Homo sapiens: one gene and its partner. The main gene of each other region encodes a partner of the protein of the gene in region 2 in a complex. Each region holds a gene or a part of one and is shown on either strand. Other genes may lie near its edges. A codon is read from its position in the direction of its gene.

Region 1 (7,266 bases), on a different chromosome or scaffold from region 2:
CTTACCTGTTAAAATTGTCTGAAAAGCAGCTTCTACATTTGTAGAGTCTAGGGCCGAAGTTTCAATGAATGACAAACCATTCTTTTCTGAGGGGAGACACAAAAGTTCAGTCTTGTTAAGTTTTAAAACAAGGAATAGGATATACTCAAGCCCTCAAAAGGAAAAATAACAGAACTTTTTAAAACTTAAGACCTCCTCAACTTCTGGGACAGTAAGGGCACCATTCTGTTTACACTTTATTTATTTACTTACTTTATTTACTTCTTTATATAAGTAGAGATGCAGGTCTCACTAGGTTGCCCAGCCTGGTCTTGAACTCCTGGCCTCAAGAGTTTCTCCTGCCTCCATCTCCCAAAATGCTGAGATTACAGGCATGAGCCACCATGCCCGACCCTACTTACACTTTAATATTTACACTTTAATAGATTAAAAATAATAGCAAGAGAGCTGGGCATGGTGGCTCACTCCTGTAATCCCAGGACTTTGGCAGGCCAAGGCAGGCGGATTGCTTGAGCCCAGGAGTTCAAGACCAGCCTGGGCAACATGGCAAAACACTGGAGAGAGGTTTTGCTCTCTCTATATAAAGAATACTAAAAATTAGCTGAGCGTGGTGACACACACCAGCAGTCTCAGCTACTTAGGAGGCTGAGGTGGAAGATCACTAGAGCCCAGGAGGTCGAGGCTGCAGTGAGCCTTGACTGTGCCACTCCACTCCAGAATGGGTCACAGAGTGAGATCCTGGCTCCCAAAAAAAAAAAAAAAAAAAGTGAGAAATTGTCAATTGGCTCCTTAATTAAAATAAATACTTGTTATATCTAAGTACTACTCACTAGTGACGAATGACACCACTTAAAATGTGGTAAAAATGTATCAAGTGCCCAGTTATTTCCATCTCTTGCTATCCTCTCCATCAACTACATTGGCTATAGTATTCCGTATGTTGTAGCCATATTATTTACAATAAAGCTATTCTTGCATGGGAAATTTAAAAAACTGTTACAGAAAGTTATTCATAGCATAAGCATTAGTGCAAAGGCAAGACTTTCTCTCTTTTTTTGTTTGTTTTGTTTTGTTTTTTTGGGACGGAGTCTCGCTCTTTCGCCCAGGCCGGACTGCAGTGGCGCTATCTCGGCTCACTGCAAGCTCTGCTCCCGGGTTCACGCCATTCTCCTGCCTCAGCCTCCCGAGTAGCTGGGACTACAGGCGCCCGCCACCGCGCCCGGTTTTTTGTATTTTTAGTAGAGACGGGGTTTCACCATGTTAGCCAAGATGGTCTCAATCTCCTGACCTCATGATCCACTCACCTCAGCCTCCCAAAGTGCTGGGATTACAGGCATGAGCCACCACGCCCGGCCGCAAGACTTTCACTAGCCACAATGCACAATGTTGTCTTCTGGCATGCTGTCCCTACCAGAACAGGGGCAAGAGACACGTGAATTCTTTATGAAGCCAAAAAGTTACAGCTCCTAAGCAGCTGCATCCCTGTTGGTCCCTGACACTCCCTGAGCCTCTGCCTTTCACTCACATAGAGCTCACGTACAGCAGCCTTTGTAAACACAGAAACATAACAGAAAAAGAGACAGAATATACAATGTTTATATTCATTTTTTGGCAGCAAAATATTAGTGTTTTAATGACTCAAAGCAAAAAAGCTATACAGTCATCACAAACTTTCAAAACAATTCTTGCTAAGCATTCATGTTTACCTCTCTGAAACTATTATAACCTATTACTCTCATTGGAAGGTATCAAAACCACAAGACACAATGGTAAGAAATATCATGGAATTCCTATCACTAACCTGCAAAAGCTCTTGCTTCATCTGTAGGAACTGCCCTGAGATGACGTAGATCACTCTTATTGCCCACAAGCATGATAACAATGTTACTATCAGCATGATCTCTCAGTTCTTTCAGCCATCGCTCTACATTTTCATATGTGAGATGTTTAGCAATGTCATAAACCAATAAGGCACCTACAGCTCCACGATAATATCTGAAAACAGAAACATATTTAGTATCAGAAAACCACAAGATGGAAGCAAACACCAGGAAGAACTCAAAATATGGATCATGAGTTTTAAAAACATACTTATAAATAAATTTCTAAGGATTCCTAATACTAGAATTCTTAAAAGAAAAAAACAACAGTTCTTTTTCCAATACCAAAAGTCAGCTAATTCACTCGATGGCAACCCATTTCACAGAACTTAAAAACCATGAGACTTACGCTGATGTTATAGCTCGATATCGCTCTTGCCCTGCTGTGTCCCATATCTGTGCCTTTATTGTTTTTCCATCAACCTGGATGCTTCTTGTTGCAAACTCTACTCCAATGGTGCTCTTGCTTTCCAGATTAAACTCATTTCGAGTAAATCGAGACAGGAGATTACTCTTTCCAACACCAGAATCTCCAATAAGGACAACTGGAAAGACAAAGAATTCAATGTCAGATGAATGAGGCAAACATATTCAGAACACCACTATGCTTTCAACAGAATGAAGTTTGGCTTCAGAGTAAATAAAGCAAGAAAAATAAGGTATATGACTTTTAAAAAGGAATGGGGGTAGGGGGTTGAACAGCATGTTCTTGACCAGTTACCAATCAATAAAACCGATTTATTCTTTTCAACCTGTTTCTACCTGCATGACTTCCACATATCATCTGCTTAGCACAGATACGGTACCCTGTCTTAAACATGCAGTTTTAATCACAGATGCCCTTGGCATTGATGACAGGCATTAATTACCGTCAATGCTATGCCAATCTTACTACTTTAGAAGATAACAACTTCAAAGATAAATCCTAAACTAAATGAATAATTTATGATATTAAAATGTAATGTATCAGAAATGAAAACAACAAAGGCTGTTAGTGGGTAGGGAAGGACAAAATGAATATACTTCGTTTCATCAAAGACTGGGTGTGACCTCAGGACTGAGACCTAGGCAAAATGAAAAACATTTAACATATGAGGCATAGGGTTTATAAACATCACCATACAGATCACAGAAACTAAAATGACCTTTAATAGTTGCATTTATCAGATTGGTTCAAAGTTAGAGACCCCTCTGCCAAAAAAACCCAAGCCACTACAGATAAACAGGGGGTATTAGGAAACTAATAATTCTGACATACTGTGAGTCAAAACCAAAGCAAGTGCCGGGTGTGGTGGCTCACACCTGTAATCCCAGCATTTTGGAAGGCCAAGGTGGGCGGATTGCTTGACGCCAAGAGTTCGAGACTAGCCTGGCCAACATGGTGAAAACCCCATCTCTATAAAAATACAAAAATTAGCCAGGTGTGGTGGTGGGCGCATGTAATCCCAACTACTTGTGGGCCTGAGGCATGAGAATAGCTTGAACCCGGGAAGCAGAGGTTGCAGTGGGCCGAGATTGTGTCACTGCACTCCAGCCTGGGCGACACACTGAGACTCTGTCTTAAAAAAATAAATAAAATAAAATACAACAAAGCAAGGAGGGCATATACTTTCACTTATGACTCCATGATTTTTTTGAAAATAGGTCTTGATTAGATGAATTTGCTTCCTGTGATTTCTATAGGCAGCAGTTTATTTACTAACTAGATACATGGAGATTCTTTTTCACTCAAAGTGGTATTACGCTTAAGAATTTCAAAAACAATGGAGAAACAGGCAGTTAAGTTGTTTTAAAACATTTTCTATCTGAATTTAAAGTTCAAAATGAGTTCACACGTTTATAGAATCTGAGCTAGATATTTTTTCCTTTGTAAAAATTGGTATCAGCATTTCAGGAAACATTACATTCGTTCCTACTTTTGACTACTAAGACTTCTTCTTATCTAAACTAGCTAATTGATTTAGACATCAGGACTAGAAAATCAAACATACAAAAATAAGGCCAAGGAGTAAGACCATTCCTTACTAAAGAGACTGGGATGGTGGTACGAGTGGAAAGAATGGTAAAAACTGAGAGCTCACTGCATTCTGGTCAGAGGGCAAAGAGAGTCCATTATACATTCCCTCCTTGCCACAGGAGTGGATATAAGCTAGCCTCTGGACAGTCTTGGACAGAGTACATTATCAAATGCATATCTTTCTGGCTTTCTCAGTCAGCTGATTCAGCAAGAAATCATTCAGGAGGCAGTGAATCCAATGCAGCACAAAGAATGGTTATTTCTAACTAGAGAGTCAACTAGAGGGTGTCAAAGATGCTGTGGCAAACACATACATGCTTTTATTTGATATCAGAAGAAAATGTCAAAGTTATTAAAGTGATGTACAAAAGCAATGCACTTTCAATTTTATAGGATGGTTAGTTGATATACTAGTTTCCAAGGTCCACCATTCTGGATATGAAGTCAAATCTCAGTTTCAGTTAATAGTCTATTATTAATAGGATACATTCACTGTTGCCTCTTAGTACAAAAGGCTGGATGTTTGCTAAGGAAATGGCCTTTGAATCACTTATACAAAAAAAAAAATTTAAATACAAAAAAATACACAAAAAATACATGAATAAATACAAACAAAAAAATTAGACAGGCACGGTGGTGCATGCCTGTAGTCCCAACTACTCAGGAGGCTGAGGTGGGCAAATGGCTTGAGCCTGGGAGGCAGAGGTTGTGGTGAGCCTGGACTGTGCACCACTGTACTCTAGCCGGGGGAGTAGAGCCAGAACTTGTCTCAAAAAAAAAACTTCCAGCACTTTCTTTCTTTCTTTCTTTTTTTGAGACAGGGTCTCACTGTCGCCCAGGCTGGAGTGCCACGGCACAAGCAGAGCCCACTGCAGCCTAGACCTCCCAGGCTCAGAGGATCCTCCCACCTCAGCCTCCCTAGTAGCTGGAACTACAGGCACATGCCAACACGCTCAGCTAATTTTTTGTATTTTCTGTAGAGATGGGGTTTTGCCATGTTGCCCAGGCTGGGTCTCAAACTCCAGGGCTCAAAAGATCCACTCGCTTTGGCCTCCCAAAGTACTGGGATTACAGGTATGAGCCACCATGCCCGGCCAACTCCAGCACTTTCAAGTTTTGGTTTCCTCCCTTTTGACCTCCACTTTTAACTAATGATTATGTTCATTATCTCACCAATCTCAACTCCTTATACCATCATAAAGATAGCAAGGGAACTTTTCTCTTAATGTAACCAATTAATGTTAACACTACAAAAAAAAAGCACTCTAATCTGAAAATAACTCAAAATTCATGAATGTTTTAAAAAGTTATCTCAACTAGGCCGGGCGTGGTGGCTCACACCTGTAATCCCAGCACTTTGGAAGGCCAAGGAGGGTGGATCACCTGAGGTCGGGAGTTTGAGACCAGCCTGACCAACATGGAGAAACCTCATCTCTACTAAAAACACAAAATTAGCCAGGTGTGGTGGCGCATGCCCGTAGTCCCAGCTACTCAGGAGGCCGAAGCAGGAGAATTGCTTGAAGCGGGAGGCGGAGGTTGCAGTAAGCTGAAATCGCAGTAAGCTGAAATCGCGCCATTGCACTCCAGCCTGGGCAACAAGAGTGAAACTCCATCTCAAAAAAAAAAAAAAAAGTTATCAACTAGACATCTGCTGTATTTGAGTATCATCGCAAATACCTAATACTGAATATCAAGCTGCTAAATGCATAAAAGCAGAATATACATATTAATTATCCATTGAAAATTTCTGCCTCTTCAACCACATTTAGTTTTATACTTTCTCTTGCAAACTAATTTACTGGACTAAAATATAATTCATCAAAGACAGTACCTCAACCCTAAAAGTTACCACGTGAGAGAATAACTGGTAATTTTCATTCTAGTTTTCATAAATTTGGAGACATTTCTATTCTTTCAACTATATTCATAGTCCAACCTCCTCAAAAGTTTTTAATATACAATGCGTTCAAGGCAGGACACAGTGGCTCATGCCTGTAATCTCAGCACTCTGAGAGGCCAAGGTGGGAGGATCCCTTGAGCCCAGGAGTTTGAGACCAGCCTGGGCAACGTAGGGAGACCCTATCTCTACAAAAAAGAAAATTTTATTTCTGTAAGTGGGATAGTCTTAAAAAAAAAAAAATAGCCAGGCATGGTGGAGCACATTTGTAGTTGCAGCTACTTGGGAGGCTGAGGCAGGAGGATTTCTTGAGCACAGGAATTTGAGGCTGCAGTGGGCTATGACTGTGCCATGGCACTCCAGACTGGGCAACAGAGGGAGACCCTGCCTCAAAAAATATATATATATAGATATAGATATAGATATAATGCATACAATAAGGCTCAAGTCTAGACAAGTTTTTCCAGATTCAGCAGAATCTGAGTTGCTCAACCAAAACTTGTGAAAGAAAAACTACTACCAAGATGCAAGACAGCAAAGTTCCTATGATAATTTCTACTGACAATCAGCTGATGGTTAATTACTACTGACCTCCAATGTGATTGAAAAGAAAATGTCTTAAGCAATAGACTATGTATCCAGATATTTTCAGAAAATCTAACTGTGGATTGGTGTCTACCACACAATATTTGTAAACAGAAATCATGATTGATGCTTACTTATGTCCCACAGGGCCTTAACCACATTGTTCGTAAATACTTAAGGAATTAAAGTTTTAAAAATAAAAAGTCAACTTTAAATAAAATAAAACTAATTCCCTCCCACCAAAAGTCTCACTATTGGGCTTAAATAAAGGTTACTGTTCAAGAACAAACACATAATTTAGAATAATTGTCCTGCTCGCCCCACATTACATTCCTATTTAGACCACTCCATCCCCTATTAATCAAAATATCCCTTTATTTTGAACTGGTTAGTTACAAACTAACTCCAATTCCCTCAACTATTGCATTTGCTAGGTAAACCTTCTAAGTAGAAACAGCTGCAGTCCATCTCAGTGAATAAATCTCTGTACAATAAAGCCATTTTGAAATAAAATCATTCTTGCTTCACTTTAAAGTAGGATACTTGTATAAATAAGAAATTGGCTAAATAATCAGCATTGAAGTTAAAAAAGAAAAAGAAAAAGTGACTCATATCCTGTAAGAGCTTTAAAAAAGTAGAAATCTGGCCAGGCACGGTGGCTCACACCAGTAATCCCAGCACTTTGGGAGGCCCAGGCGGGCGGATCACCTGAGGTCAGGAGTTCGAGACCAGCCTGACCAACATGGAGAAACCCCGTCTCTACTAGAAATACAAAATTAGCCGGGTGTGGTGGTCCATGCCTGTAATCCCAGCTACTCGGGAGACTGAGGCAGGAAAATCGCTTGAACCCAGGAAGCAGAGGTTGCAATGAGCCGAGATCGCGTCAT
Region 2 (8,048 bases):
TGACAAAAGATGTTTCTCAAATAAAAAGAATTGTATGAAAGTCAGTAAGATATTATCACAATAGGGATATTGTGAGCCACCACATCTAAGAAGAGGCATCTAAGGTCTAAGGGCCAAAAGACCTAGTTCTACTCCTGTGAGACCTTGGGAGAGCTATCTGACCTTTCTGGGTTTCCAGTTTCTTACCTGTAAAGTGGGGATGAATCCTGCTTACCTACTATCTCAGAGAACTGTGGTATGATCCAGTGGAAACATCCTGAGCCTCACAGAAGTTCTCTATCAAGAGTTGGGTTATGGTAACAAGGAGCAAATGTGGTACTCTCCTAACTTCTTTGCTGTACTGAAGCAAGAGTATGTTTGGGAGAAGAGACAGCGCAGTAGCCAACAGCAACCAAGGGAGCTCAAGGTGCTCTCCAGCCCAGGGGCAAGAAGGAAACGCAGCAAAACACCTGGACCAGCAACCACCATCCACGCTGACCATACAGGAAAGTATCAGTCACATATTTCACTGCCCATTAGTGTAGGTGGAAAACTACCCTGACAATATCCCAACCGGAGCTAAGCTTGCGAGCATTGCAGGCTGCCCCGCACGCACCTGTCTGCACATCTTCTTAATGTGAACTCAGCAAGGAACCCTGATTTATCAGGACCCTGTGTTTTTTGTTTTGTTGCTGTTTTTTTTTTTTGAGACGAAGTCTCGCTCTGTCGCCCAGGCTGGAGTGCAGTGGCGCGATCTCCGCTCACTGCAAGCTCCGCCTCCCGGGTTCACGCCATTCTCCTGCCTCAGCCTCCCGAGTAGCTAGGAGTACAGGTGCCCGCCACCACGCCCGACTAATTTTTTTGTATTTTTTAGTGGAGACGGGGTTTCACCATATTAGCCAGGATGGTCTCAATCTCCTGACCTCGTGATCCGCCCGCCTCGGCCTCCTAAAGTGCTGGGATTACAGGCATGAGCCACCGCGCCCGACCATCAAGGTTCTTAATGTTATGACTGACACCCTAAATAGCAGTGTGCCAATTTTACCTCTTTTCTTACAGACCTCTTGGCTTAAACATGCATATGTACTTGAACACCCACTTACCAGATGTCTGCATGTGTGAGAAGTCAAAATACAAAAAATTGACAGATGCACCTTAGGGATTTCCTGCTAAGTAAAATATTTAAAAGTGAGCACTGGTATTATTTGATGTCCACCGGGTTATTGGCAGAACACACACGGCCCTGCTGTTATCTCCACTTAAACTTTATTAAGTGCTGAGGTAGACAGGAACAACTGCATCTTGGGGCCCACCTTTCCCCCAGGAGCAGGTGCCCTGAGGACCGCGTGGACCCCTTCCACACTGTACTGTGCGTAGTGCCTGTCCACGCATTTCACCTCTCCTACGAGAGTGGACGTGGCCCTAACGGAGTTCTGCTAGACTTCTGCATTTGCCAACAAGCTCCGAGGCTCATTGCCTTCCTCCCCAAAGGCACCAAAGTAAAAATTCTTAATTCCAGGACTCTCTACAAGCATTGACTGTCTCCCAAATAAAAGATGAAATCTAAGTAGAAAAGATGTCAACCACACACAGTAAAGTAATTGTACTCAAAATAGGTGTCTATCAGTAGGATCTCAAGGCGTCTGGGCAGCCTGGCCTCTGCGGCTAGAACTTGGGTGAATTCAGCCGAGCAGTATCTGGGCCCTCGGGTGGGGGAATCGCGGGGAACTTCTTCATTCAGGGGCACGTCGATCAGGCACCCTGGGGGGGTGGCGATCAGGCCCCCTGGGGGGGTGTCCCCAGGCGAGGAGCTGACCTCGGTAAGATCCAGCTGACGAGGCGCTGGGGGGAGGGGAAGAAACTGACTCCCCAGAATAGAACCTCCTTTTAAGAAGGGAAGAGGGACTCCAGCGCAATTCAACCAGAAATCCAGGGCCGAAGTGGTGAATAAGCAGAAAAAGCAGGACCGTCAGGTCTTGACAGTGCCTTTCCCGACTCCAGGGGCAGCGTCGACCGGTCCCACATCAACCCCGCCGGCCAGCGCGCACCTGCCCAGTTCCCACGCCCCGGCCCGGGCCGCTCCGTACCTGCTCTGCCCCGTAGACCGTAGCAAACTGGATGAAGTCCTCGATGCGGACGAAACCGTCCCCATCCCCGTCCAGGGCATCGAACACGGCTCGGAGGCGGGGGCCGTCCTCCTGACTCCCCACGGGCTCGCTCGGAAGGGGGTGGGTCTGGCTGAGGTCCGAGGGCTGCGGCGGGGACCCGGGACCTTGCTCCAGCGCCAGCTCGCCCGCCGTGGGCGCGGGGAAGGGAGAGAAGACGTCGACCTCGCCCCGCGCTCGGTGGCTGCTGCTGGACCCCTGCAAGCGGAAAGGCGCGCTCTCCGGGCAGCTCGCGGGGCCACACTCCTCGGGCTCCTCAGTCCAGGAGAACAACGGGTCGAGTTCTGGAAGCGGCGCTTCGGAGCGCGGCCCTGGGCCCGGGGCGTCGGGGCTCGCAAGCTGCCCCCGCGGGCCGGAGCGCGGCGGCGGGGCGGACGGCCCGGGGTCTCGCGGGCCTCCCTCCAGCCCCGGGGCCGGCCCGGCGCTCCAACGCGCCCCGCCATCTGCAGCGGCCCCGGGCGCAGGCTCATCCAGGCCCGGGGACTGCGGGTCGGGGCCGCCGACGGGCGCTCCGAGGCGTAGCTCCGCAGGGCCCGGAGCCAGTTGTGCCGCCCCCGGCCCGTCCGGCCCGCCCGGCTCCGGGTCGGGCCCCGGCGGCTCCGAGCCCGGGGGCGAGGCCGGCGGGGCCGACGCCATGCTCCCGAGAGGCTAGTGGTGCGGAAGGGCGCGGGCGGCAGACAAAGGCGCTCAGGGCGCGGCGGCGGGCGCGGGCATCCCCTCGGCGGCGCGGGCGGGCGCGCGCGGGGCGCCCGGGCTGCTGGGGCTGGCGCTCGGGCCCTGCTCTGTCCTCGCCCATCTTCGCACCGCGCCTCAGCTGCCCTCGGCCCGGCGGCGCGGCGGGCGCAGGCCCATGGCGGCGGGGCGGCCTAGGGAGGGCGGCGAGGATCCGGGCGGCGGATGGCGGGGGACGGGGGCCGAGGAGGCCGGGGGACGGGGGCCGAGGAGGCCGGAGGCCGCGGAGCCTGTGAAGCAGGATGAGGAGACTAAGGAGGCTGAGGCGCCTGAGGTACCCGGAGAACTAACGCCGCCGCCGCCCAGGCCCCGCCCCCCGTCGGGCCTGACGTCAGCACGTCCCGGCGGGGTCCCAGCCCCTCGCCGGCTTGCTGTAGAGGCAGGCGCCGGGTGTGTCGCGGCAGTGCAGCGGCCGCGAAGGGGTGTTTTGCTGTATGTCATATTCCTCGTTTCGCCAGAGCGGGGGTCCCGAGCTTCGGGCGCGGGACGCGGGGGTGCTCCGAGGCTGCGAGTGGAGGCGTGACGTGACGTCCCTGGCAAGAGGCGCGCGGAGTCAGGCCTTACTTAGAACGTGTTCCCGCCGCACAGCTACCAGCGGGCGCGACCGCTACCCACGCATGGTGCGGTCGAGTAAACGGCACCGCCTGGCGAGCGAGAGACGCAAAGGGACATAGCCCCCTAGGAGCTGAGCTCTTCGGGGGTAAAGCGTTCTCACGTTGATGAGACCAGGAGGCGGCGCACGCCTGGCTCCGCGGCCCAGGGGTTGCAGGTGCCCCAGGGTTCGCGGGGCGCAGACGCCGCAGAGGGCGACGCCCTGCCCGGGTCCCGCGCGGACCCGGGGGACGCAGGGTCTGACACGGAGTGCGGAGGGGCCCCAGACACGCAGTCCATGTCCCTTGAAACCAGAGGCACGCGCGGCCACGCGCTAGGCCTTTCCCTTAAGCCTGTGACCAAGATCTCCGGGACTCCCAGCGTTGGGACGGGCGCGCTGGCCCACGCCCAAGCGGGAGGATCGCTTGCGCCCAGGAGATTGAGACCAGCCTGAGCACCAAAGCGAGACCTCGTCTCTACAAAAAATAAGACTCAAGAAGACACCCAGGGTGAATCGCCCGTCTGCAGCCAGCCTCCCGAGCACCGTGGCCGCGTCTGACAACTGACCTCTGTGTCTGGGTGTCCCTGTCCTCAGAGGGACACGGGACCTCAGAAAGGACCACAGCCCGGCGGCAGGCATGATGGTGGGAAAGCTAGTTAGGACAGGTGAGGCACTAAATTTAGCCTGTCATAATTTGTATCAGGGAAATGATGAACTTGTATTTTTACACACCATGGGCACCAACACAAGATATGGTTTCGTAAGCAGCTTTGGCAAGAACCAAAGGAACGGAACCTCTGCTTCCAAGTGTACGGTCAGGAGCAGCGTGTTAATTAAGTGAGTCATCTTCCGTGGCAGAATCCCAGGGTACATGGGACCAGACTTCGCGAGGCTGGCATTAGGAAAAGGAATGTGAGGGATCCTCCTCCCCAAACCGTATTCTCATTTTCTTGTAAGAGCTGTACGTGTTCATGAGGAAGATACTGCATTCAAAGAACGAAATCACCAGCAGCTTTGGCAAGAATTCAAATTTGGGCTGATGCCTTCGGCCGGATAAAATTTTCAGAAGCAGTGATAGTGATGTGTCAACCTTTCTAAATAGGGGTGTTAGTGTGGGCGAGGCAGAGACAGCAGGCTCCCTCTGCTTTTATGTGCCGGCGCTGCCAGAGGCAGAAGGCTGGCTTTCTGAGAGCAGGGGCCCGCACGCTCTGTCTGTGCTAGGGCTGGAAAACGTCCATTGCGTGCCCGGCTGGTGTCCTCCATGGAACCACAGCCTGGAAGCCTGCACCTCCCTGCCTGGACCAGTTAGAGGCTGTTCATGAAAGACTAAAGGGACAAGTTCCCGTCTATCCGTCTGCTGTTCAGAGCTACTATCTGTGTCCCCTTTGTAGGCTGTGGGCTGTAGCAGTTCCTTCTTTTCTTTTCTTTTCTTTTTTTTCCCCGAGACAGGGTTTTGCTCTGTTGCCCAGGCTGCAGTGCAGTGGTGCGACCATAGCTCACGGCAGCCTCAACCTCCTAGGCTCAAGAGATCCTCCCACCTTAGGCCAGGTGTGGTAGCTCATGCCTGTAATCCCAGGACTGTGGGAGGCTGAGGCGGGCGGATCACGAGGTCAGAAAATGGAGACCATCCTGGCTAACACGGTGAAACCCCGTCTCTACTAAAAATACAAAAAAACAAAAATTAGCCAGGTGTGGTGGCAGGCACCTGTAGTCCCAGCTATTTGGGAGGCTGAGGCAGGAGAAAGGCGTGAACCCGGGAGGCAGAGCTTGCAGCGAGCCAAGATTGCACCATTGCACTCCAGCCTGGATGATAGAGCAAGACTCCGTCTCCAAAATAAAAAATAAAAATAGAAGAGAGATCCTCCCACCTCAGCCTCTCCAGTAGCTGAGACCACAGATCTGCAGCACCTTATTATCTTTTTTTTTTTTTTGATATGGAGTCTCACTCTGTCGCCCAGGCTGGAGTGCAATGGCGCGATCTCTGGTCACTGCAACCTCCGCCTCCCGGGTTCAAGTGATTCCCCTACCTCAGCCTCCTGAGTAGCTGGGATTACAGGCGTATGCCACCAAGGCCGGCTAATTTTTTGTATTTTTAGTAGAGACCGGGGTTTCACCATGTTGGTCAAGCTGGTCTCAAACTCCTGACCTCAAGTGATCCGCCCACCTCGGCCTCCCAAAGTGCTGGGATTATTGGCATGAGTCACCACACTTGGCCTCAACATGCGTTTTGGAGGGTATAAACATTCAAAGCATAGCCTCCATCTTCTCACTCTGTCCTCACATGTTGGAGAAAGATTGTCTCTTTTGGGCTGGGCGTGGGAGCTCATGCCTGTAATTCCAGCACTTTGGGAGGCCGAGGCGGGTGGATCACGAGGTCAGGAGTTCAAGACCAGCCTGGCCAAGATGGTGAAACCCCGTATCTACTAAAAAATAGAAAATTTAGGCCGGGCGCGGTTGCTCAGCCTATAATCCCAGCACTTTGGGAGGCAAGGTGGGCGGATCACAAGGTCAAGAGATCGAAAACATCCTGGCAAACATGGTGAAACCCTGTCTCTACTAAAAATACAAAAATTAGCCGGGTGTGGTGGCACCCACCTGTAGTCCCAGCTACTCGGGAGCCTGAGGGAGGAGAATCGCTTGAACCTGGGAGGCAGAGGTTGCAGTGAGCGAAGATCGCACCACTGCACTCCAGCCTGGCGACAGAGCGAGACTCCACCTAAAAAATATATGTATATATTAGCCGGCCGTGGTGGCGGGCACCTGTAATCCCAGCTACTCAGGAGGCTGAGGCAAAGAATTGCTTGAACCCGGGAGGTGGAGGTTGCAGTGAGTCAAGATCACACCACTGTACTGCAGCCTGGGTGATGGAGTGAGACTCTGTCTCAAAAAAAAAGAAAAAAAATTATCCGGGGGCGGTGGCGGGTGCGTGTAATCCCAGCTACTCAGGAGGCTGAACAGGGTAATCACTTGAGCCTGGGAGGCAGAGGTTGCAATGAGCTGAGATCCAGCCACTACACTCCAGCCTGGGCAACAGAGCGAGACTATCTCAAAAAAAAAAAAAAGGCGGGCGTAATGGCTCACGCCTGTAATCCCAACACTTTAGGAGGCCAAGGCGGGTGGATAACCTGAGGTCAGGAGTTCGAGACTAGCCTGGCCAACATGGTAAAACCCTGTCTCTACTAAAAATACAAAAACTAGCTGAGCGTGGTGGCGTGTCCTGTAATCCCAGCTACCTGGGAGGCTGAGGCAGGAGAATACTTGAACCCGGGAGGTGGAGGTTGCAGTGAGCCAAGATCCCACCATTGCACTCCAGCCTGGGCAACAAGAGGGAAACTCCATCTCAAGGAAAACAATAAAATAAAAATAAGGCTGGGCACGGTGCCTCACGCCTGTAATCCCAGCACTCTGGGAGACCGATGCGGGTGGATTACCTGAGGTCAGGAGTTCAAGACCAGGCTTGCCATGGTGAAACCCCATCTCTACTAAAAATACAAAAAATTAGCCAGGCATGGTGGTGCATGCCTGTAATCCCAGCTACTTGGGAGGCTGAGGCAGGAGAATCACTAGAACCTGGGAGGCGGAGGTTGCAGTGAATCGAGATTGTGCCATGGCACTCCAGCCTGGGCAGCAAGAGTGAAACTCCGTCTCAAAAAAAGAAAAAAGAAAAAAAAAGACTGTCTCTTCTAATAAGGGCACTGTTCCCATCGTGAGGGCCCCACCTTGCTGACCGTATCTAACCCTAATTATTATTATTATTATTTTTTTTTGAGACGGAGTCTTGCTCTGTCGTCCAGGCTGAAGTGCAATGGCGCCATCTCAGCTCACTGCAATCTCTGCCTCCCGGATTCATGCCATTCTCCTGCCTCAGCCTCCCCAGTAGCTGGGACCACAGGCACCCGCCACCATGCCTGGCTAATTGTTTTGTATTTTTACTAGAGCCGGGGTTTCACCGTGTTAACCAGGATGGTCTCGATCTCCTGAGCTCATGATCCACCCGCCTCGGCATCCCAAAGTGCTGGGATTACAGGCGTGAGCCACCGCGCCCGGCCCTAACCCTAAGTTATACCTCCCAAAGACCTCATCTCCAAATACCATCCCGTTGGCGTTAGGACTCCAATATATAAATTTTGGGGTAGCAACTGGGAAGAGAGAGTTAGAATGGATTTAATGGACAAAATATTCATTTCTAGAATACACAAAAGAATTTCTCAAAAAACAGTAAACGAACAGCAACCCGATAGAAAAACGAGGAAAGAATATGAATAAGCAGCTCCAGAAGAGGAAATTCAGGTGGCCGGTAAACACATGAAAAAGATGCTCATCTTCACTGGTCACCAGGAAAATGTGTGAGTGTAGCCCTTGACACCAATCAGAGTAAGTCTGGGGACACCAGGGAGTGGGGATTTGGCACCAGTCGTGCAGCTGAAGGTCGGAATACTCCAGTGTGGGATCCGCCTTCCAGTACCTGCCGGAGAAACTGCACATGTCCGCAGGGAGATGGAAAGACCTTGTTTCCTTCGGGGATTTGTACTTCTCTGGAAGAAGAGCCGAACGGCTTCAGTGGAGCCTGTTGTCTGTTG

Evidence for each region.
Region 1: the proteins of RAB11FIP3 (region 2) and RAB11A are in contact, whole or in part, in a crystal structure (PDB 2HV8), measured with the Homo sapiens proteins. Residues at the interface, in NP_055515.1 of Homo sapiens: Asn731, Phe732, Gln735, Ile738, Asp739, Arg740, Ile742, Val743, Met746, Glu747, Pro750, Ser751, Leu753, Glu754, Val755, Lys756; in NP_004654.1 of Homo sapiens: Arg33 (codon at 2,369), Ile44 (codon at 2,336), Gly45 (codon at 2,333), Val46 (codon at 2,330), Glu47 (codon at 2,327), Phe48 (codon at 2,324), Ala49 (codon at 2,321), Thr50 (codon at 2,318), Trp65 (codon at 2,273), Arg72 (codon at 2,252), Arg74 (codon at 2,246), Ala75 (codon at 2,243), Ile76 (codon at 2,240), Ala79 (codon at 2,231), Tyr80 (codon at 1,994), Arg82 (codon at 1,988).

The regions. Positions count from the first base shown.
Region 1 is NC_000015.10:65,872,491-65,879,756, reverse strand, and holds part of RAB11A (ras-related protein Rab-11A), read right to left. Parts: intron 2,426-7,266; coding exon 2,230-2,425; intron 1,996-2,229; coding exon 1,802-1,995; intron 87-1,801; coding exon 6-86; intron 1-5. UniProt on the Homo sapiens protein: The small GTPases Rab are key regulators of intracellular membrane trafficking, from the formation of transport vesicles to their fusion with membranes.
Region 2 is NC_000016.10:420,739-428,786, reverse strand, and holds the start of RAB11FIP3 (rab11 family-interacting protein 3), read right to left. Parts: upstream 3,139-8,048; 5' UTR 2,781-3,138; coding exon 2,067-2,780; intron 1-2,066. UniProt on the Homo sapiens protein: Downstream effector molecule for Rab11 GTPase which is involved in endocytic trafficking, cytokinesis and intracellular ciliogenesis by participating in membrane delivery. Recruited by Rab11 to endosomes where it links Rab11 to dynein motor complex.